Regions from separate parts of the Homo sapiens genome. Here region 2 is linked to region 1. The links come from fine-mapping of genetic effects on gene expression. Tissue or cell type: monocytes. Region 1 holds a variant in brackets; the other region holds the start of a gene. All regions are shown on one strand. Distances are from middle to middle.

Region 1 (12,040 bases):
AACTGCCCCAAAGAGTCTGGGATGTGGCTGAGGTGGCCACTTTGCCAGGAGCTGATGAGGGGGATGAAAGTAAGAACTGATTTTAATCTTCGCCTCTCGTACAACCCCTGGTGGGCACCGGATGATGCCCTGTTCCACTGATTTTAAGTTGCATTTTCCCCCCCGCATTTCCACATTCTCCAAGTGAGAACGTGTCCCGCAGTGTGAGGGTGAGCTGTCGTGATATAATTAGAGTCTCTTGGCCTTCTTGGTGGTCCATAAGATAGCGGCATGCCTTCCGATGGGGGACCCGGGAGTTGCTGAGTCGCAGCGCTTGCACAGCGATGGGCTTATTTGGTCTCTCCGGCACATGGCTCAGCCCTGCTCCGTGGCCGTGGGTGGCGTCCCCGGCTGACCCCCTGTCTTGCAGGTGTAGTCGCCGCCGCCAGCCGCCATGGGCAAACAGAACAGCAAGCTGCGGCCCGAGGTGCTGCAGGACCTGCGGGAGAACACGGAGTTCACCGACCACGAGCTGCAGGAGTGGTACAAGGGCTTCCTCAAGGACTGCCCCACCGGCCACCTGACCGTGGACGAGTTCAAGAAGATCTACGCCAACTTCTTCCCCTACGGCGACGCTTCCAAGTTCGCCGAGCACGTCTTCCGCACCTTCGACACCAACGGCGACGGCACCATCGACTTCCGGGAGTTCATCATTGCGCTGAGCGTGACCTCGCGGGGCAAGCTGGAGCAGAAGCTCAAGTGGGCCTTCAGCATGTACGACCTGGACGGCAACGGCTACATCAGCCGCAGCGAGATGCTGGAGATCGTGCAGGTACCGGCGCCCGAGGCCCCGGGTCTCACCGCGGGCCCAGGTCCCCTCCCAGCTCCCAGCCCCCAGCCCAGGGCTTTTTTTTTTTTTTTTTTTTTTAAGACAGGAATCTTGCTCTAGTGACTGGAGTGCAGTGGCACTATCTCAGCTCACTGCAACCTCTGCCTCCTGGGCTCAGGTGATTTTTCCGCTTCAGCCTCTTGAGCACCTCCATGCCCTGTTAATTTTTTTGGTATTTTTGATGGTAGAGAGAGGGTTTTGCCACATTATCCAGGCTGGTCTTGAACTCCTAGGCTCAAGCGATCTGCCCGCCTCAGCCTCCCAGAGTGCTAGAATGACAGGTGTGAGCCACCGTGCCTGGCCTCCCTGTGTTCTTTATGTTCACTCGACATTGGGTCTTTCTTGGCCAGGTTGCTACCTGGTGCACTTTGGAAAGTGAGCAGTTGTCACCTGATTGGGCAGACCCTTGCAAAGGGCAATGGTAAAAGCCAATGTTTATTGATCACTTGCTATACATCAGGGCCGGGTGGAGCACTTTGATCCGTTTTCATCTTCATAACCCAACAACGTGGGTCATTCTCTGCATTTTACAAAGTCTGAGACTCAAATAGATGAATTTCTAAAAATTATATTTTATATATATTTGGAGATGGAGTCTCACTTTGTCGCCCAGGCTGGAGTGCAGTGGCATGATCTCGGCTCACTGCAACCTCCACCTCCTGGGTTCAAGAGATTCTCCTGTCTCAGCCTCCCATGTAGCTGGGATTACAGGTATGTGCCACCGCAGCCAGCTAATTTTTGTATTTTTAGTAGAGACGAGGTTTCACCATGTTGGCCAGGCTAGTCTTAAACTCCTCACCTCAGTTGATCTGCCTTCAGCCTCCCAAAGTGCTAGGATTACAGGCATGGGCCACCGTGCCTGGCCAAGAATTGTATGATTGCTGGGCTCCTTGGCACTTGCAAGAGGTACCTGCCAAGACCTGGGGAAAGCCCTGGATTTGAGAACTCAACAGATAGCTTGTGATGTCCCCAGGAATGCGCAGTCATCAAGTAAAACTGAAGCATTAACGATCACGAGAATCAGCTCAGCACGGGAAAGACGTCACTTTAGGAGGCATCTCTTCACCTTCATGCCTATCAACAGCTCTAGCAGAAAGGCCATGTTTCAGAAGGAAACCAAGTTTTGTTCACTTGGCCAGGTGCCTAGGTATGCGAGAGAGAGTAGAGAGCAGAGCTGCCCCTCCCTGGCATTCCCCTGAGTGCCTCCCTGAGCCCAGGAGCATCCAATTCTAGAACTCATGGCCAGGCCTGTAATCCCAACACTTTGGGTGGCCGAGGCTGGAGGATCGCGTGAGCCCGGGAGTTTGAGACCAGCCTGGGCAATATAGTGAGACTCCATCTCTATAAAAAATTAAAAGAGTAGCAGGGCATAGTGGCATGCACCTGTAGTCCCAGCTACTTGGGAGGCTGAGATGGGAGGATTGCTTGAGCCCAGGAGTTCAAGGTGACAGTGAGCTGTGATTGCACTGCTGCATTCCAGCCTGGGTGACAGAGTGAGACCCTGCCTCCAAAAAGACCAAAAGCAAAATAAGAAAAAAATGGAACTCTTCAGAAGGGGTGGTCCCATGGTAGGGAACTTCAGGGGTGGGCCTCCAGTAGCGGGTATCAAATCCGTGAACTTCTGCAGCAGCAGTGGCCCGCCTCAGGAATGAGCGACCCATTTCCCACGTAGATGGTTTTCACACTGTCAGAGTAAATTAACATGGGCTCGGGGAACTCTGGTACTGTCGTCACTTTCTGGCTCTTAGCTTCATGCAGTGGCGGAAGTAAGAATTCTATTCCCCAGGAATCACCCGTCCTGTCCTGTGTGTTAACCCTTACCCTTTGCAAATAGGTGTGCCTGTCACTGGCCGTGCAGAGGCTTGGTCAGAACATCAAGGCACTGGTAGAACTGTTCCAAGCAGTGAGGAGCAGCCACTTCTGTCCAAACGGGACAGCCCCCAAACCAAGTCCCCAAACCCTGAAAGCCTTCCCCCGACGCCATCGATGGCTCCCTGGCCGGCTGGGTGGTGTTTCTCATGGGACACTTGGTTGCTACCTCTTTCTCACAATGAGAAAATGGTCTGTTGTCAGGAATGAGAATATCAAGCCACCTTCACGTGGAGTGCTCAGAAAATCCCACAGCAGTGCCACCACTCCCCACGCATGTCACTCTGCTCAGTGGCCACTCACCAGTCCCATCACCGTCTCCTCTGTACACCCACCAGCAGCACAGAGTCACATGCCCCAGGCTGGGCCACTCAGGCAGAGACACGCAGAGAGACCAGTGGCTAGACTGAGCCCTCGGCTGACAGTGCCCTAAACAGGCCATGGAGACCCCAGTGCTGCTGCTTCCTGTCCTGTCGGGGCTGGTGATGGGGCTTGCCCTGTGAGTTTCAGGGACTCAGTCTCTTTTAAACTGAGGGGTAACAGCCATGGAGTAAAATGCACACAGCTCAGCAGGCAGTGTGGGGAATTTCACACATCTGTGACCACCACTCTCCCTCAGCATTCCCAGCCCCCGACAGGGACACTTAGGCACCTTCCTGGCACTACCCACCCCCAGGCAGAGATACCAGCACCCTCACCACCCTCCCAGTAGAACCCTTCTGCCAGCTCTGCTCTTGAACTTCACATAGACACCCGTGAGGTTCACTAGGGAACATTCTCCCCACTGGGGAAGGGTCCCGAAGGCCACCGGGAGCCCCTGACCTCTCCGAGCCTTGTTGTGGGCTGGGCGGAAGCCCACCCTTGCTGCACCCGCCCAAGCCCCCGGGCCTCTGAGCACAGTGTCATTGCCCCCATCCGCAGGCCATCTACAAGATGGTGTCGTCTGTGATGAAGATGCCGGAGGATGAGTCCACCCCGGAGAAGCGCACAGACAAGATCTTCAGGCAGATGGACACCAACAATGACGGTAGTGCGGGGTGGGGGCGGGGCTGCATGTGTACGCCACGGTAGGGGCAAAACCATGTGGTTTGGGGCACCCCCTCCCCTCTGCAGCTTCTTGGTCTCCTGAGGGCCACCCCCGCCCGCCACCTGCCTGGCGCCTGCCATGCCCAGGGAAGAGCGGGATGCAGTCAGGGACACCCGTGCTGTATCCTGGCTCCTCTGTGCAGCTTTGTGATGCTGGGCATGTTGTGGCCTCTCTGAGCCACTGTCTCCCCACTTATAGAATCGGGCATACCCATATTCCCGTGGGTACAATGTTTAGGGGCAGGGAGGCAAGCATGCTGGTGGCCCTGAACCTGGAGGGGTTGAGATCAAAGGATCCCAGATGTTGGGGTCCTGGGGTGCTGGCCATGCCTCTCTTGCTGCCATCCTGAGAGAAGAAGCTGCCCAGATGGCCCCAGTGTCCAAGGGGAACTGTCAGGATGTACGCTGCCACCTTGTCCACCTACAGCAGCTCTGTGGAGACTCAGCCCCACTGCAGAAGTGCAAGTCTCACGATGGTGGGTGGCAGCAGTGGTGACAGGGCTGTGCCTCGAGTGCCCTCCTCTGCATTGGCTGTGAGGTGAGGGCGGCTGTGCGGCCCTCCCATTCTGCTCTTCTTGCCGGCTTTGTCAAGAGCAGCCACAGCACCAGGTTTGCTTTGCTTTTGAGCAATAAAGAAACACGACCTTAAGAAGAGAAAATACAGGCTGGGCGCAGTGGCTCACGCCTGTAATCCCAGCACTTTGGGAGGCCGAGGTGGGCAGATCACGAGGTCAGGAGATCGAGACCATCCTGGCTAACACGGTGAAACCCCGTCTCTGCTAAAAATACAAAAAAATTAGCCAGGCGTGGTGGCGGGCGCCTGTAGTCCCAGCTACTCGGGAGGCTGAGGCAGGAGAATGGTGTGAACCCGGGAGGCAGAGCTTGCAGTGAGCCGAGATCGCACCACTGCACTCCAGCCTGGGCGATAGAGTGAGACTCCATCTCAAAAAAATAAAGAGGAAATACTCCCTGGGTTGTGCTGGGGATTAAACGATAAGCTAATGCCCAAGAAGCTGCTCTGCGAAGTCTGGAGTGCAGCCCTCGGGTGAGTTAAGCATGGCCCCAGCGGGAGACGGGATGTGGGGGAGCTGTAAGCAGCAAAGAGCATTCCAGGCAGCCAGGTCACAGTTTCAAAACACACACACACAGAAAACAAGGCTGCCTGGTGCCTGGCGTTGCCTTTGGGCTGATGGGAAATGTGTGTTCCACCCTCCAGCCTAGCAGGGCACCTGCTGCCGCTCTCCTGAGGCTGTCCGCTCCTCGTGGGGATGGTGAATCCGGTCCCATGGGGTTGTGAGGTTTCAGCGAGATGATGCCTTAAAGCTTTTAGCAGGGCTTGCACTCCACAAATAATGGCTGTTGTTCCCAACTTCACAGTGTCCCTGGGGAAGCCACCCATGGTCACTCGCTGCCCGAATCTGCCTCCTGGCTTGGCCCTGCCCACCTCTTCAGAGGGCATCTTCTAGGTTGGTTGGGAATTTGGATGGCATGGTCGTTGCTAATGTGCCTGCTGGGATGGAGCACTTCCTCCTGTGAGCCCAGGGGACCCGCCTGTCCCTGGAGCTTGGGGCAAGGAGGGAAGAGTGATACCAGGAAGGTGGGGCTGCAGCCAGGGGCCAGAGTCAGTTCAGGGAGTGGTCCTCGGCCCTCAAAGCTCCTCCGGGGACTGCTCAGGAGTGATGGTGCCCTGGAGTTTGCCCCAACTTCCCTGGCCACCCTGGAAGGTGCCTGGCTGCTCCAGGCCTCTAGGCTGGGCTGATGGGTTTCTCCAGGACACAAGTATCATTAAAGCCACCCTCTCCTCAGCTTGTCAGGCCGCACATGTGGGACAGGCTGTGCTCAGCAACCCCCTCGCCTGCCCTGCCCTCCATCAGGAGGAGCCAGTGGAACCTTCGGAAGCTCCCAGCATCTCAGCAGCCCTCAGAGTCGTCCTGGGGCAGCTCTGGTTCTCCTGACTGGAGGTCCATCTGGGCTGGCCTGCTCTCTCTCGGCCTGAGACAGGAGGGCCTGGGGTCAGGAACTGGAAGTGGGGAGGCT[G/A]GGGCCGTGGACTCTGAGGCCCCACACCTAGCCAAGGAGATGACCACACAGCTGGCTGCCCTGAGTGGTCAGAGGTGGAGGGTGGGGAGCCACTCTCTCCATTGGCAGAGGTTCCTGGGGACTGTCTGCTGAGGGCCTGGCTGTCCCTCCCTCTCCCTACCCACCCCTTAGCCCGGGCATTGTTTGGGCTCTCTTGGGGCCAGCAGGCTGCCCAGGCCCCAGAGGCATCAAGTTCGTGCCCTGGAAGAAGCCAGCCTGCCCAAGCCTGGGCCAGAGTCCCATGAGGACAGGTGTCCCTGCCTGCCAGTGGGCTGGAGGGGCTGAATTCCCAGCAGGGCCCTACTGTGCAGGGGCATCCTCCGTCCTGGTGCTGGTCTGAGTCCTCAAATGCATCCTCCCAGGTGCCTTTGAGATGGGTGTTCCCATTATCCCACCTTCGAGACGAAGATCCTGAGACCTGGAAACGTTGGTGGCTTGCCATGCGCCAGAGCCGAGAGCCCCTCCTGCATGCCTTCCCCTGTGCTGGGCCTGGCTGCATGCGTCTGTGTTGCCTGCACAGACATTTTGCAGGGTGCCCTAGTGATTCCAGCTGACAGCACAGAGCCTCAAACAGACACATGGAGGGGCTGCCCCAGGACCAGGCCGCCAGGACGCAGCCAACCTCAAACCTCATCCTTCCCCACCAGCTGGAGCCAGAGGGACCGCCTCCTGCCCTTGAGGCCATGTCTGAACGGGCAGAATCCTTACAGCCTATCCTGCTTGTGGACTAGCAGAGCCAGGGCTATAGTGACCACAGTGTGAGCTCATTGACAGCGGTTATGGGATGGGGAGCGGAGGGTCAGAAAACCTCACCCCACCCAGCTCAGCCGATCAGCCTTACGGAGCCCTGCCCTAGGCCACGAGCCTCCAGAGGCCACTCAGCCCAGTGTGGAGTCACCGAGTCTGTGTCCTGGGAGAGGGAATATGTTGTCACCAGCATTGGATGCGGAGGATGAGGGGGCAGCTGATTCCTTAGCACGACCAATCTTTTTCTAGGTTTTCCTCTCACCGCATGGGGCCAAAACAGTACAGAGCATGAGTTTGGTACCCCAAGCCTGAGCAGCGGGTCTACGCTGATGCCAGGGAGGATCCGGACCGTGCTTCCGGGGGCCCCCAACCAGCATGGCCTTCTCAGCCTGGATTCTGTATGGGTTAGAGGCAAATGCTTCATTTTTCTGCACAGTGTACACGTTCCTTAATAAGCGAAGTGTGGGGTGATTTCTAAAAGGATTTAAATGGCCCTCATCAGCCACGTCCTGCTGAGCTTGCTGGGTAAGCCCTTTGAGGTACCTGATGTATTGCAGGGAGCAGGGAAAGGAAAAAGGATTTTTTTTCAGAAATGCCTGTAAAGTGAATGGAGACTAGACACCGTCCAGCTTCAAGAAGGCTCAGGACTTTCAACAAAGGGAGCATACCTGACCTGAGAGCTGTCCCCATCCTCTCTGGAAGCATAAAGAACAGTGAGCACTGGCTAATCCCATTGTCTCTGGTCCCCTGCAGGCAAACTGTCCTTGGAAGAATTCATCAGAGGTGCCAAGAGCGACCCCTCCATCGTCCGCCTGCTGCAGTGCGACCCCAGCAGTGCCAGTCAGTTCTGAGCGAGCGGCCCCTGGACAGTTGCAGAGAAACACAGGCTTGTCGTGCCGTTTAAGCTTTGCTTGCAAGAGTGGATGCCCCGCAATCGTTCCTGCTCTCCCGGGCCCCGGGCCTGGGGCATGCGTTGCACCTGCCCAGCCCGGTGGCTGCGCCTCCCTCCTCCACCTGACCAACGCGACATTCCTCCCCTCACGCCTGGCCCGGTCCCTTCCAGGGCAACTCCCAGGGATGTGGTGACATGCAGGGTTCAAGTGTTCTTGGTTCCAGGCACCTCCCGGCTCACGGGGAGCTCAGAGGTCCATGCCGAGGAGACCAGGCAGGACCTCCCGAGGCTGCGCCCCGGCCGGCCCATGCGTTTTGTGATCCCAAGTGACTCTGTGGGAAGGGTGGGGACGAGGCGTCGGGAGGGTATACAGGGAGCCCCTCCCGTGCATGGCTGCCCCCCCGTTCATTTTCTCCACCACAGCCGCTTGCACGTATAGATACTGTGGTCCCCTTTCTTTTAATATATAAATTATGTATGGTGAAGTGGAGTGTATTGTGTAGGTCCCGTATTTAATGCCTCTGACTGCCTTTGAAGCGCAGCCCTCTGTGGCCCGCAGCCCCCTGAGCCTGGCTGTTGTGTGGTATTTATGCTCTCTTTGTCTGCCTGTTTCTAAGGAAATGCATGTGTGCCCTGAGCCGTGATGATCCTCCCATCCGTGTTGTGAGCACAGGCATTTGTGTCTGGTCTGTCCTCCCTGTTGATTGGTCTGGCATTTCCGGTATTAAAATGATAAAATAAATGGCATTTTCTGAGTTTTGCGTCTGCCCGCGGGAGCCCCCATTCCTCAGGCCGTGGCCCCTGCACTCTCCAGGCAAGGCGGGTGTGCTGCGTGCCACCGCTGTTGGTAAATCCGGCCCCTCTTACGTCCCTCCAGCTGTCCCCGCGTTTATAAATCTTGCACAGCCTGTTCTTCAATATCTGCCTAATGCCAAGAAATACTCGTGGAAATAAACGATGACTGTTCTTGGCAGATCTGACGGTCAGGCTTCTGCCTCCCCCCAGCCCTTCCCTCTCCTTCTCCTTCCACGGTTTCAGGTCGTAGGAAAGCCACATTCCAAGAGAGGACGGGCATAGCCAAGGGTGCAGTCAGGCTGGACCCAGAGGTGGCAGGCCTGGTTCTCCATCCAGCCTTCGCCGCTGCCGTCAGTGCTTCTGGTCCCAGCAGCAGAAGGCCCAGCTGAAGAAGTGGGGGTTGGTTGGTCTCGCCTGCCAAGGGATCCAAAGGCAGCATCGCTGGGGATCCCCAGGCATCAGCTTGTCTTTTTTTTTTTCTTTTTTTAAGAGAGAGTGTCTCTCTATGTTGCCCAGGCTGGCCTCAACCTCCTGGGCTCCAGCAATCCTTTCGCATCAGCCTCCTGAGTAGCTGGGACCTCGGGTGAACAGCACTGCGCCTCCTAATCACAGTCAGCTTTTCACCTCAGGCTTGTCTTCCTGGGGTGCCTACAACTGCTGTTGTGGTTCTGGGCAGTACAGCTGACATGGGAGCATCAAGAGGCAGGGAGAGAAGCCTCTGTCCTCCCACTGAGGGACAGGAAAACCCTCCAGAATCTGCCCACCACCCCGTCCCCACCAGCCCCACATCTCATGGCTGAAACCATGGCCTGTGTTCACAAGATGACCATGTCATGGCCACGGCTGGCTTACGCTGGTCAAGATGGCCCTTGGCCAAGGTGGCATCTGCCTCCCCCAGAGGGCATAGGGTTGGGAAGGGGTGAGTGGAATGGAGGTTCTATTACCAGGACGGGCACTACGGCGTCTGCCCACCTGCCTGCTGCTGTCGGCTCCTCTGTGCCTCAGTGTCTTCACTGTAGGGGATGGGGGGAGCTGGGTGGCTCAAGGTCACATATGCAAAGCGCATGGCTTGGAACCTGCCTCCCAGCAGGCCTTCAGCAACAGCAGCTAATTTGTTGATTTTAGTCATTTTAATATTTTTTAAGACTCCATGTCTCTTTTAATAGAAATGGTGAGTCTGTTTGCCAAGTGCCTTCTGAGTCAATGGCACTGCTAGAGCTATTTCATAGTAAAACTCTCCATGCACCCAGAGCCACCAAGCCTTGATGGGGGAACCAGGTGGGGTGCGAGATGGAGGCCAGGTGCCCTGGGCAGATCTAGCTTGCTACAAAGAGGCAAGACGGTGCCTTTGGCAACACTGCCTCACCTGGAAGAACAGCCAGTGAACGGCTTGAATTTTATAAACATTTAACTGGGACTGGCAAAGGTTAAATCAAGAGTGCTTGTTGTGGGGAGGGCTCACTTATGATGGGGACAGAGTCCAACAGAAACAGATGGGAGTGACCACTACATTAGTCAGGGTTCTCCAGGAACAGAACTGATAGGAGACATGCATGGATGGGAGGGGTGGGTGGATGGATGGGTGGGTGGGTGGGTGGATGGATGGATGGATGGATGTATGGATGAGTGGGTGAGGGGATGGGTGGGTGAATGGATGGGTGGGTGGATGCATAGACAGGTGGATGCATGGATGGGTGGATGGATGGCTGGGTGGATGGGTTGGTGAATGGGTGGGTCGGTGGGTGGATCGATAGGTGGATGGGTGGGTCGATGGATGGGTCGGTGGGTAGATGGATGGATGGGAGTATGGGTGGATGGGTGGGTGGGTGGATGGGTCCCTAGGTGGATCGGTTGATGGATGAATGGGTGGCTGGATGGATGGATGGATGGGTGGATGGATGGTTGGGTGGGTGGGTGGATGGATGGATGGGTGGATGGGTGGGTGAATGGTTGGGTGGGTGGGTGGATGCATGCATGGGTGGGTGGGTGGGTGGGTGGATGGATGGATGGATGGATGGGTGAATGGTTGGGTGGGTGGGTAGATGCATGGATGGGTTGGTGGGTGGGTGGCTGGATGGATGGGTGGATGGGTGGGCAGGTGGGTGGATGTATGTATGTATGGATGGGTGGGTGATTGGTTGGATGGGAGGGTGGATGCATGGATGGGTGGGCGGGTGGGTGGATGGATGGATGGATGGATGGATGGATGGATGGATGAATGGGTAGGCGAATGGATGGTTAGATAGATGTATTTATCATAAGGAATTGGCTTATACGTGATTATGGAGGCTGAGAGGTCCCAAGGAGACAAGCAGCCCTGTCCCCTGTAGACAGAGGTCAGCAAGCTGGGGACCCAGGAGAGCTAATGGTGTAGTTCCAGTCTGAATCTTAAGGGAGGAGGAGGCCAATGTCCCAGCTCAAGACTGTGAGGCAAAGAACAAATTCTCAGGCTTTTGTCCTATTCAGGCCTTCAGCTGAGTGGATGAGGACCCCCACATTGGGGAGGGGGATCTGCTTTACCCCACCTGGTTCCCCCATTGGTCACCAGTTCCAATGTCAAATTCATCCAAAAGCACCCTCACAGGCACACCCAAAATAATCGGTTTGCCCAAATGTCTGGGTACCCCCTGGCCCAGTCATGTTGACACATAAAATTAACCATTATAACCACCTCTGCTCAGATATGGAGGAGGTAGATATGGGGATCCTAGTGGACCCTGCCCTACAAGGAGCTCACAGAAGCCAGTATGATTTGTCCAGGAGTCCAGTGCTCTCTGGGAAGGCAGGGAATTGAACCCCAAAGATGGTGTCCCTGTGCCAAGAAGCCCAGCCTATCAGAGGAGGAAAGAACCCAGAAGTGAACCCAAAACTGTCGTCCATGCCACCCACCCAGCAGGAGGCCTCCTCAGTCTCTTCCTTTGTCCGGGATCAGGATCTTTCAGGGCGGGTTGTTAGAAAGTGTCTCGGCTGGGTGCGGTGGCTCACGCCTGTAATCACAGCACTTTGGGAGGCCAAAGCGGGTGGATCATGAGGTCAGGAAATCGAGACCATTCTGGCTAACACGGTGAAACCCCGTCTCTACTAAAAATATAAAAAATTAGCCGGGCATGGTGGTGGGCGCCTGTAGTCCCAGCTACTCAGGAGGCTGAGGCAGGAGAATGGCGTAAACCCAGAAGTCGGAGGTTGCAGTGAGCCGAGACGGTGCCACTGCACTGTAGCCTGGGTGACAGAGACTCTGTCTCAAAAAAAAAAAAAAAAAGAAAGAAAGTGTCTCCACCTGTCCTTCCCTGGTAATTTGCAGTACTGGCCCTGGGCCTGCTTCCTCTTCCTCCAACCACCTCCTTCTGCAAGCTTCTCTCTTGTCCTGCCTTCTCCTTGCCCCAGGGGATCCCAGACCCTTTGCCATCCTGCACGGGCACTCCAAGTTGTTAAAGTTCCTTGGGAGTTGCATACAAGTGTCCCTTATCCTATAGACAGATAGAAGATCTAATCATGTACCTGCATAAGCAAGGCTTATGTGGGTGGACTCAACAGAAACTCTGGAAAATGGCTCCGGTGGCTCCATGGTCCCATCCACCAGCTGTCCTGACACTCACTGCATGGTGTCCCATGCTCACTGAGTAAATACAGGGTAATGGGAACAACTCCTGAGACAGGAAAATGTTTAGACTCGAAGGAAGGAAGCCCTGGAGTGTGGAGGGAAGGGT
Region 2 (12,040 bases), 25 kb after region 1:
TGTCTCCCAGGTCTGCCACATAGAAGGCATCCTTATCATCCTGAAACAAGAGTGGTCACAGGTGACTCACTAGCAGCCTCACCACACACCACACCAATAGCCAGCGACCTTCATTCCCATCAGTCACAATGAATCCTGCTCTTTTGAGTCTAGCCACTGATATGAGTATCACCATTATCACTATTAATTTACCACCAGTGAATTAATTTCTACATTCCATAACAAGACATGTAAGCCTCATTGCTCTTCCTTAGACCTTGCCAAAGTTTTCCACTTGCCTGGCACTCTCAGCTGCACTGCCAGCATGGGCCTCATATACTTACAGAAGAAGAAACTTCATTAATTTTCTGGTCCAGAATGTCCTTGGCAGTAAAACCTTCATCGAGGAAGTGGCAGTCAAACTCTTCATTACCAAAGTTGTTCATGATTTCTTGATGTTCCTCTGAAATGCAACAAAATGCAAATAGAGTGGAGAAATTCACTTAGAAGCCTTAGCAATACAATTCTTAAGATTAACCTGCAACATAAATGTAAACTGAATACTTACATGGAAAACTAAGAGATGGAATTGAAAGAAATATTTCCAGCTTCTCACAAAGGCAACTCTCCAGGAATTCCAAATCCCTCTGCGTGTGCCCTTGGAACAGCAGTGACAATCTGAGAAATAAAATAGGGAATTTGCTGTCTACCTTAGGAACACATCGAGTTGAAGATGGGGCACTGGCTGAGCACACGCAGAGCTAATCATGCCCCGGATATGAACCACTCACTGGCCTGGTCATCCTAATTATTACTAGGCATAAGGTACATGATTCCATAAACCTTGGCAGTATAAGGACACAACAAAAAATACCAGGTTTTTCCAAGGCAGCACACTAAGCATTTCAAATATTTGTACCAAAAAAATCTAGCATGCAAGTTTCAGAAGCTTATCTGCACTTAGCTCACTGATATGGAAAAAAGTCTTATAATGGTCTGATTTATTTCAGAGCAGTTTCAGTTCCTTAGAAACTTAAAATAGCATTATAGACTTTTTTATTTTTTTTGAGACAGAGTCTCACGCTGTCACCCAGGCTGGAGTGCAGCGGTGCAATCTTGGCTCACTGCAACCTCTGCCTCCCGGGTTCAAGCGATTCTCCTGCCTCAGCCTCCCCAGCAGCTGGGATTACAGGCGCCTGCCACCATGCCCGGCTAATTTTTGTGTTTTTAGTAGAGACAGGATTTCACCACGTTGTCCAGGTGGGTCTCAAACTCCTGACCCCAGGTGATCCACCCGCCTCGGTCTTCCAAAGTGCTGGGATTACATTATAGCCTTTATACACAGCCATACAAACATTTCCTACTTCCACTAAGTCTTAGAATGATTTTTACTGACCAACAGGCATCATGGAAATGTCTGGAGCATTTGAGATTTTACGAGTTAATTTTCATGTATTAGCTGGGTATATACTTCTTAAAAACTGTAATCTTCAAGTCAACTTATCACATTGTATTACAGTTGCTGTTACCTGATCAGAATTCAGTATTTTTTTTTTTTTTTTTTGAGACAGAGTTTTACTCTTGTTGCCCAGGCTGGAGTGCAATGGCATGATCTCGGCTCACCTCAACCTCCGCCTCCTGGGTTCAAGCGATTCTCCTGCCTCAGTCTCCCGAGTAGCTGGGATTACCGGCATGTGCCACCACACCCGGGGCCTGGCTAATTTTATATTTTTAGTGGAGATGGCGTTTCTCCATGTTAGTCAGGCTGGTCTCCAACTCCCGACCTCAGGTGATCCGCCTGCCTCAGCCTCCCAAAGTGTTGGGATTACAGGCGTGAGCCACCACGCCCGGCTAGAACTCAGTATTCTTAAACCAGCGTTGCCTACCAAGTTTAGCAATTCCGGGAATGCCAACTGTCCTTACAGTCACTCTCGTATTTGCTTAGCTATGAGAATAATTTGGGGCTAACTTCACCAAAAAAGAAAAACAAGCAAGAACATCACTCTAGTAACAATAAAAGCCACTGTATTTTGCTTTCATCAAATGTGGCACCTTGTGAACCAGCTTTCTTAAAATTATTTATTTTAACCTTTAAAAATTTCTGCCAGGTAGAGCTTTCTTCTTTTCCACTGTGCAACCCACTTCAGTGCCAGCAGCCTACGGGCACAGAGGCCAGGCAATGGTTCGGGGACACAGTTTGCTCTGGCATGGGGTACTATGACAGGCCCAGGGTGACGGGCCTGTCATAAATCCAAACCCATGCATAGAATTTGCTTTAAAGCTCTATCTATTGTGACTGCTTGGCATTGTCAACCTCCGAAGTTGCCTAAATCACCCCTCGGAGAAGGGAAGAGAGTAACAACGCTAGCAAAACCATTTTTGTTACAGACATGGTTATATATTTTTGTTTATATGAAGAATATTTACAATTTAATAATAAATAGGCTCATGCAGTCTCGGACTGGGTCATTTGAGGCCTTATTAAATATTTTTAAGGCAATGTTCAGGCCTAAACTTGGAAAGTTTTGATTTCTTTTTAATACGCCAATACTTTTTTGCTTTTCTGTATCTTTTAAGGCGTTACTTAAGTAACTTACTTGAATATATTTTACTGAAGAACACCTTTCGGTCTTTCTGTAACAGCTAAGTTATTTAAAATGGTCAATCAATTAGCACAAGAGGATAATGTTAGAAGAGATAGGGGCTAATTCAAACAAACTTTGAAAAAAATTTCACAAATCAATTAAAGTCTGCCCAATTTTATGTTTAAACAAAGTCAGCCAACACATTCTTTGTCCTCCCCAGACATTCCTGAGAGGTTCTGCCTTCTACACTTTCACCAATTATTTCGACTTCGCAAACAGCACAATCAGCCTTTTCTGCAAACCTTAGGGCTGTCTCCCCTGTGTATGTCCGTTCATCTAAGCCAAGCTTTTCCGAAATCACCGAGTCATTCACAGTCCTTAAATAAACACCTCTAAGTCATGGCCGAGCATCTAATATCACAGCTACTACAGCAAGACTATCTTAGCTCTACCCACTCTCGCGGGTTTCCAAATTGGTGTCATCTGCTCTGTAGACACAGCGAAAATAAAAACTGGAAGGAAACTGAAGGCGCCAAGGCCGGGGCCCGCTCGTCTGTACCAAGGCGAGCCCGGGCTCTGCGCCCCTGCACCTGCTGCGCGGCCGCCAGGGCCTCCCCAACGGCTCCCCGGCCAGCGCGCGGCCGCCGAAGGGTTGGGAAAGAGGCCGGCGCGGGGCCGCAGGGTCTCCGGGTGGGTCTCCCCTAGGCCCCTCCAGCCCCGAGCTGTGAAGACGGGGGCAGAACGAGGCGCCCGGATCACCCTTATCCAGCCGCGGGAGAACCCCGGGCCGGGAGGAAGCGGCGCCTCAAGGTCGTGGCCCGCTCGGCGACCACGTGTCTCCGCAGGCCGGCGAGGCGCGCCGCACACGTGCCCGGGGCCCGGGGCCCGCAGCCCGCCCCGGCTCCCGCCCTCGCTCCCTCCCTTCCTCCGCGGCCGGGGAGTCCCTCACCTCAGAGCGCCCAGGCGCCGCAGGCCAGCCCCATGGGGAAGCGCAGACGCCGGAGCCTGAGTCGCAGCCGCAGGAGCGCTCGGCCGCCCCCGCCGCGCCCGTCAGCGCCTGGCTCCCGCCCGCCGGAGACGCCGGCCCGAGGTGGCGCCGGAGCTGCTGGCAGAGGGGCGGCGGGCGGCGGCGGCGGCGGCTACAGGAGGGACTGACAAAGCCCCACGGCACGCCGCTCCCTACTTATAGCACCGGCGGGTCGCCATGGAGACGCACCAGCTCAAACCAGCCACGATCGGTTCCGGCCGGGACACCGCCGGGGGAGGGGCGGGGGCCCGGCGGTGGCCAACCCGGGCCCGCGCGGAGCTGGTGGGGCGCCGGCGGGCCGACGTCAGCCGAGCCGAGCACCGCCTGCCCCACGCGTGGCCCCCGCCCCCGGCTTCGCGCCCCGCCCTCCCCGCCCTGCGGCCGCCTCTCCCCGCCCTCCCCGCCCTGCGGCCGCCTCGCCCCGCCCCGCCCTGCGGCGGTCTCGCCCGCCTGGAACTGGTCCGCGCACGCGCACGACGCCGCAGGCCCCGGCCCCGGCCCGCGGCAGCTGAACGGCAGAGCCTGTAGCTGCACAGCTGTGCTTCCACCTGGCGTTCAGTACCTCGTGCCCGAGAGCGGAAAAGGGAAATCGCGAGCGGAGGACCGATGTGCTGGCCACGTGGGCCCCGCCGGGCCGACTCCGGACCCTGCTGCCGCCCATTCCTCCGGTGCAAGGGACCTGGAAGTGATCCCGGTGCCGCTCTGCTCCCACCAGCTAGGGAGCAGAGGCGCGGGAGGGAAGGGGCGTCCCGGGGGTCGCCAGCACGCTGCGGGCAGGGCTGGCAGCCGCCTCCACGCCCCCGCGCTGGAAGCCTCGTCTTTGTAACATCGAGGTATCCTGTAACTAGATGGGTCCTGGCCTGCGGAGGTAGTTTCCCCTGTGAAGCCAGGGACTCAGCCAGGAGCGTGAGGGGACCCGGATCCTGAGTCTCCAAGCCGCCCACTACCCTCTGCTTTACCGGATGGAACTCATCAGTAACTAGGTATCTTTAAGGGCGGCTCCCTGGCGCGCTCTGAGAGTTACGGAAGTCCCAAAATGCTTTGACCGAAAACGTCTAAACAGTGAATACATAAAGCAAAAAGCCGCGTGGGAAATTCGAGTCCCTAGGAGCGCCCAGGGGACGCCTCTGGAGGTGGACTGCCACTCACTCCAGGCCACGCTGGAATGCCCGCACCAGGGAGGCACTGCACTTGAATTGGGGACACTTTTTTTTTTTTTTTTCATTTTTACCTTTCATTCCCTTTTGGACAATCCAGACAGGATATGTCTCTCCCTAGGGTGGGGATTTCGACTCCTTAGGGTGGGAGTACAGCCGATGAAGAGTTAAGGAGAGGAGTGGGTAGATCTAGATCTAGCCTTGGGTGGGTGGGGGCGGGGTTGGAGGAGCTCAGAGCACTGGCCCAGCGCTGCCCCCAACTTGCTGTGTGCTCTTGGACAAGTTATCTCCCTTCTCTGGGCTTCAGATAACCCAAGGATCCTTACATATCTTTATAGCTACAAAGCCCTGTGAGGTTTTGAAAAACTTCCTTGGTACCCAAAACCAGGTCTGAGGCACAGTCAGTGAATACCTGTTTAATGAATGCATGCATAAATGAATGAATGGATGATCCAGCTCTTCCTGGAGCAGGCACGACTTCCACAGAAACAGAGCAAACGCTAGCCGTAAGCAGAAGTGAGTCTTCTTCCTATGTGAAGGGATGTGGGGGTGGTACGCCCCTATCAACTTTATCTTTACATAGTCCTTGAGCGCCCACCGGGCACCGTGTTCCCCGGACTAGAGGGAGGGAGAGGGGGGTTAGCTCCACCCTTAACAAGCTTAATTCTTGATGAGATTAACCATCAAAACCCATCAGAGAACGTTATAGCTCCAGCGCTGAATGAGACATCTTTGATTCTGTGGTGATGCGGACTTTGTGCCTCTCTGTGAGGAATCACTTTGTTCCAATGACGCAATTTTCCTCACACTCCGGAAGTGTCCTGCACTGCCAGAATCGCCCAGCTTCCCGGCACACCTATCAACCAGTCGTTCCCAGCACTGCCCAGTATGCAGCCTCCAGGCAGAGGGCCTGGATGTCTTGGCAGGTAGGGTTCCCCTAGCAGCCTGGGGGTGGTCAGATAGAAACATTAACTGGAACGTAGAGGCCAGTTCTTGGCTCAGGGAGCCAGGAGGGCTCTGACTGTTGCACATACAAGCCACTCACACTGCTATCGCCCACATACCTTCCTCTCCCGCCAGCCCACCCCAAAGCCCAAACTCCTGCCCGCATGCTGGGAAGGTGAGCCCTTGCCTGGAGAGCCCAGCAGGGGAAATAGAAGGAGGGAAGGAGGCCTGCTCCTTCCCCGGAGCTCTGCTCTGCGGCTGCAGGAAGACCCGCAGAGGCCCTGGGCAGCAGAACTGTGGACAGCAAGGCTGGAGTTGTGAAACCCAACCACTCAGCTGGATTCCAGAAGCTCAGGTGGTGGTGACTAAACCTGGCCTTACTTAAAATGCATGACTTTATTGTCTTTCAATGTATTTTCAGTAAACTTCATCCTCTCCATTACTATTTTCTTTTCTTCGGAAACAAGCAACAGATCTTTGTAAAAAAAATACGTGATGCCACGCACTTAGGAATCACCCTCATGTGGAGATGAGATTTCTTTTTTATTTTTTTTTTCTGAGAGTCTCACTCTGTTGCCCAGGCTGGAGTGCAGTGACGTGATCTCGTCTCACTGCAACCTCTGCCTCCCAGGCTCAAGCGATTCTCATGCCTCGGCCTCCTGAGTAGCTGGGATTACGGGCATGTACCACCGTGCCCAGCTAATTTTTGCATTTTTAGTAGAGATGGGGTTTCGCCATGTTGGCTAGGCTGATCTCAAACTCCTGACCTCAAGTGATCCACCCACCTCGGCCTCCCAAAGTGCTGGGATGACAGGCGTGAGCCACTGTGCCTGGCCAGAGATGAGACTTCTATGTGTGGTGCTAAAAGAGTGAATAAAAACATTAGATACTACACTGGACATGCTTCTAAGAGCTTAGTCATCTCACCTAAGTTCTGGGACCAACTCCCATTTTCTTAGGATTCCTTGGGCCCCCTTACCACCCCCCCGCCGCTCTGCCCCGCTCATTATGAAAGTTTGGACATCACTCTGTCTCTCTGGGTTCCAGACTACCTTTCTGAAAATGGGGTGGTTGGACTGGCTGAAAGCTCAGGTTCTTCTTTCCTTCTAATGTTCTAAGAATCTACTTATTTCACAGAGTTCTGTATAAATCCACTGACCAAGTTTTCTAAACCAAAACCAAAAACATGTCTGATGAAGGAAGTATCTTTTTTCTTCTTTGCTAACTTACATGAAAAGGCTTATAAAGGTATATAGTGATTGCAGACTTAAGCAGTCACCCTTATCATTATTATTATTATTATTTGAGTCAAGAGGCTTGCTCTGTTGCCCAGGCTGGAGTGCAGTGGCGCAATACTGGCTCACTGCAACCTCTGCCTCCCAGTTTCAAGCAATTCTCCTGCCTCAGCCTCCTGAGTAGCTGGGAATCCAGGCGCCCACCACCACATCCAGCTGATTTCTCTATTTTTAGTAGAGATGGGGTTTCACCATGTTGGCCAGGCTGGTCTCAAACTCCTGACCTCAAGTGATCTGCCTGCCTTGGCCTCCCAAAGTGCTGGGATGATAGGCGTGAGCCACCGCGCCTGGCCTCACCCTTATCAAAAAGAAGTAGGTCACATAGAAGACAATAACCAGCAAGCATTTGTGTATCCATTTACTCAGTATTGGAAAGTTTGACATTGAGAGCTTTCTGGAAAATGGGTTTGGGCGCTGCTTACGTGTCCGTGGTTGTACTCTACTTCACCAAACTTCTTCCAGAAGCATAGAAGAGTGGACTGTGGAGTGAGGCTCATGACCTCCAGCCCCATGAGGACTTTGGGAGGTTAGCTTCTGCCCTGGCAAGGGTGCCCTAACTCAGGACACCTGGGTAATGGGGACTAGTCACAGATGCTCTAGTCCCATCTGGATGTTTGGCCAAAAATAGTTTTCCTTAGCTCAGTCACTCACCAGTCCTTTAACCTTGCCCTTTGAATGGTTTTAGGTGTTTCCGAAAAATCCAATCCACCCTCCAAGGTGGAAAGTGTGCCATCTCTGCCCATAATCCAAATGGCGTGCCTGAGGCATAGAAAGCAGCTTTCAGGGAGGCCTTCCTTCCTCTGAGCAATGGTGGCATCATCAGAAAAGTGGAGCTCCTCCAAAAGGATCTGCTGGAAGCAGAGGACGCCCATGTGTAAGTGGAAGTCCCAGGATGTTTGTTTTATAAAGTGTTACATCACGGCCCTACCTTGCCCCAGCCCTGGTGTGGCTCACTGGGAAGCTGCTGGGAAAGGAGCCAAATAGGAACTAGGCCAGGGCCTCCTGGAGCCCAGAAGGGCCCTGGGGGCAGGTCAGTGGGCACACACAGTTGCAGAGAAGAGGGGGCCCTTGTCTGGAGGCTGAGAGTTTGGAAGAGTACTTTTTTTTTTTTTTTTTGAGACACAGTCTTACTCTGTCACCCAGGCTGGAGTGGTGCAGTGGCACAATCTTGGCTCACTGCAGCCTCTGCCTCCTGGGTTCAAGTTATTCTTATGCCTCAGCCTCCTGAGTAGCTGGGACTACAGGCGTGCACCACCACTCCTGGCTAATTTTTTGTATTTTTAGTAGAGACAGGTTTTCGCCATGTTGGCCAGGCTGGTCTCAAATTCCCGACCTCAAATGATCCGCCCGTCTCAGCCTCCCAAAGTGTTGGGATTACAGGTGTGAGCCGCCGCACCCGGCCTGGAGGAGTTCATTTTCATGGGGAAAGTGATGTTTATCATTATTTTGCTTCCCACTTCCTTGTCTTTTTCAGTGGGCAGAAGTCAGAGTCCCATTAAGCCTGTACCGAGTCAGTATTCAGACATGCCATCCGACACGTGGACAGAAGCTTTGCCATCTGCCTACTTGGCTTGTCTGTTTCAAGCCCTTCACTGGTGGCCCTGGGTCCACAGAGTAAAGTCCAAACACCTTAGCCTGGCACCCAGGACCCTCTGAGGCCTGCCCTGCCCACCCTCCCAGCCTCTTTTGCCACTCCAGCTCCCTGAGCCACTGATGTTCCACAGACCCTGCCCCTGCCATCGTAACGTGGGTCACGTGGTGTGGGCACCTTTGTTTCCTGCCTCCATCCTGCCTTCCCCTCCCCGCAACTCTCCCTTTGAAATCAGGACCATGATTTTCTTCTCTCCATATGTTCAGTTTCTAGCCTGGTTCCTGGCTCACAAAGCCATTCAATATTGTCAAGTTGAAACTGGGTTTAGTAGCACCTGTGGGCTATTGGGAACAAAAGAAAGCAAGCGAGGCTGTGCTGAAAAGTGGTCATTTGTGGTTGCTATACGAGTGATTAGCTCAGGAGAATTTCTCCCCACGTGCTATCTAAGATTAGGGGAACAAAAGACCCTGGGTGTTCTTCCTTTAGTCAGTTGTTTGTTGATTCATTCCATACGTGTCTGCTGAGTGCCACCTGTGTGCAAGTGGCAGGCAGGACAAGGGAGGACCCTCTGTGGCTGGGCCGGGTTCCTGGGGACCAGCAGGGAATTGATAAGAGCCAAGAGAAGCCTCGCTTTTACCCAGTGCCTAAGGAAACTGCCTCTTTTGTTTTATTTTCTCCTAAGCGCCTGGTGACTCCCTCTGACCCAACAAGTTGCAGCACCTCTGCTGGGCTTTGCCACTGCCCCATTTTTGCCAGAGCCTCACCCTGGTGGGGCCCCACCTCTGGGAAGCCCCAGCGCCTGCAAGATTTTTTCCTCTCGTGACAGGGAGCAGCATGCGGAGGGCCCTTGCACAACCTGGGTCTTCAGGAAGGTGAGTGCTCTGCCCAGGGGCAGTGTGAGCTCTGCGTCCCTGCCAAGTCAGAGGCGGGACCATCCGAAGGGCCTGTGGCTGGGGTCTGCTACACCGAGCCTTGCGGGCCCTCCAAGGGGTAGGGTACCCTGAGGGCAGTGCTCCCTGTCTCTGTTCTAACAGCTGTGAGCACTTGCTCTGTGCCAGCGCCCCTGCCAGGTGCCAGGGAGAAGGAGGGGAGGCCAAGGAGGTCCCTGTGCTCCAGGAGCTCATGGTCCAGAGGGGAGGCTGCCCCCAGGCTTGTGCTCTCTAGGTTCTGGTCCCTGGGACAGTGGTCACACAGACAAAGGAGGTGGACGCAGCCGAGGGAGCAGGGGCCTGGGTTTGGAAAGGCTCGTCCAGGGCCAGGGAGAGTTAGGGAGGGGCCTGCAGCACCCAGGGCAAGAATAAGACCTGTGGGCACCAAGGGAGGCTCCCGCCCACAAGCCCAGCTTTCCTCTGGGAGAGGACTGAGGGCTGTGAAGGGGAGAGCAGAGGAGGAGTCACTCTGGGGAGCAGCCTCTCACCCCCAGGGGCTGCTACTTCACCCAGCTCCAGCCTCCATCAGTCCATCCAAATCCTGGCTGACAGCAGGGCCCCGCCATCGTAGAAGGCAGGTCGGCCTCCACATGCGGGCACAGAATGTTTCCCTTTGGCATTCCATGCCCTGTATGGCTCAGGGCCCAGGCAGGCAGTTCAGCAGAGGGAATTTAGCAAGAGAACTAGTTACAGAGATGACATGTCTTACAGCTGCAGGAAGCCACTATCACCCAGAGGACTGGGGATGAAAGGGGACGAGGGTCCCCAGCAGCGTGGCAGCCACCTGTGGGCTGTCCCAGAGAAACCCACTGACCACCAAGGGCAAGCAGCTAGTGCTGGGGAGGCTGCGAAGCCAAGAGAGGGAGAGGGAGATGGAGACAGAGAGGAGGGACAGGAGCCAGCTCTCCCCTCCGCCCATCCTCCAGGCTCCCACCAGCACTTCCCAGTCAGAAGCCTGTTGACAAGAGATCCCGGTCAGTGTCATTTTCCAAGGCCAGCCCTGTCCACTCCACCAGAGAAACAGCAGAGGCACAGTGGGAGTGGGGAATGGGTCTGAGAGCGGGCGGGCAAGGGCAGGCTCGGCCCCTTGGCGGTAGGCCCGTCAGAGTCTTCCTTCTGCCTTCTTGTAGGACAGTTTCTAACCAGAGTTCTGGTAAGCACTGGTGACATTTCACATTGGCTTAAGCAATAAGGAAAAGCAGTCATCTCACGTAGCAACGTGGCTTGGGGAAGGGAGTCTCCAGTTTCATGTATTCGGAGCCTCAAGAACAACGTTGAAGACCTGGATTCTTTTCCTGTTTTTGCAGTTCCTTGCCCAGGTGTTGGCCCAGCTCTCTTCATGGTTCCAAGAAGGCTGCCCCAGGAAGGCTTGTGGACAGAGGGAGAAGCATCTCTTCCTCTATGTCTCTTTTTATCTAAGAAACCAGTTTGACCAGCATCCTTCCCCTCGGCTCCCCAGGAGGAATGCACGGATCCCTTCGCCTTCCCCCATCCCTCCATGGTTGACTAAACCCACTAGGATCCACTCTTTTGCGTGGAAATGGGTTCAGGCCTCCCACGAAGAGCATGAAGATGCCCTCTGTTATGGGTTACATTATGTCCCCTGCCCCCGAGACCGTATGTTGAGTCCTAACCCTAGTATTGCAGAACGTGAATTTATTAGGAGATAGGGTCTTTATGGAGGTCATTAAGTTAAATGAGGGTGTTAGGGTGGGCTGGTGTCCTGATATAAAGGGGAAATTTGGGGCTGGGTGTAGTGGCTCACACATATAATCCCAGTGCCTCGAGAGGCCAAGGCAGGAGGATTGCTTGAGGGCAGGAGTTCAAGACCAGCTTGGGTAACATAGGGAGACCGGTATCTATAAAAAAAATTAAAAACAAAAAAATTAGCCGAGTGTGGTGGTGCATGCCTGTAGTCCCAGCTACTCAGGAGGCTGAGGTGGGAGGATCGCTTGAGTCCAGGAATTTGAGGCTGCAGTGAGCCATAAAAAGATGGGGGACGATGGAGACGCACAGGGAAAACACCTTGTGAATGCGGCAGAGATAAGGGTGATGCCTCTACACACCGAGGAACTTCAGAGACAACCAGTAAGTCACTGGGAGCTCGGGGAAGGCACAGCGCAGATGCTCGCTGCCCTCAGAGGGAAGCCAGCCCGCCAACCCCTTGATCTCAGACCTCTGGCCCCTGGAACTGTGAGATGATAGATTTCTGTCGTTTAAGCACAGTGGTGCTGTGTTATAGCAGCCCTAGGGAACCATCCACTATCAGAACAAAAGCAGGGCTGGACTGCTAGAAGAAAGGAGAGGAGAATGGCAGAGGATACCCACCTTGGGGCTGAATCTGAGATCACTCCAGGGCTCCCCAGGTTGTTTTGAAGAATGGAGATGGATTTGTGCAGGGCTCACTGTAGAAGCTCAGTGCAGCATGCGACGCTTATAAGGCTGCAATCCCCAGAGCTCAGTCCCTGAAGAGCGCTGCATTCACAGACATCAGCCAGCAGACAAACCAGTACCTATTGTCCCTGACCCCCA

The links. PIP is the estimated chance that this variant, and not a neighbour inherited with it, causes the effect.
Region 2: ODC1-DT starts here. The variant in region 1 is fine-mapped to the expression of ODC1-DT in monocytes (TOPMed, PIP above 0.99).

Annotation. Positions count from the first base shown.
Region 1 is chr2:10,419,325-10,431,364 of GRCh38, forward strand. HPCAL1 (hippocalcin like 1) reads left to right here. Exons shown (of 5, transcript NM_002149.4): 3 at 410-811; 4 at 3,659-3,764; 5 at 7,400-8,280. The coding sequence starts at 434. The coding sequence ends at 7,497. Among named protein-coding and RNA genes, the nearest start is that of SNORA80B, 22 kb to the right of the region's middle. RefSeq lists enhancers at 1-522, 523-1,110, 5,439-6,251. The variant G/A (reference allele first, on the strand shown) is at 5,861.
Region 2 is chr2:10,444,608-10,456,647 of GRCh38, forward strand. It overlaps ODC1-DT (ODC1 divergent transcript), which reads left to right and starts at 5,121. Exons shown (of 5, transcript NR_110597.1): 1 at 5,121-5,264; 2 at 5,446-5,674; 3 at 7,674-7,862; 4 at 9,262-9,451; 5 at 10,816-10,945. It overlaps ODC1 (ornithine decarboxylase 1), which reads right to left and starts at 3,720. Exons shown (of 12, transcript NM_002539.3): 1 at 3,514-3,720; 2 at 548-657; 3 at 324-442; 4 at 1-40. The coding sequence starts at 425. It overlaps SNORA80B (small nucleolar RNA, H/ACA box 80B), which reads right to left and starts at 2,242; the gene lies at 2,107-2,242. RefSeq lists silencers at 1,657-1,886, 3,111-4,590 and an enhancer at 2,901-2,990.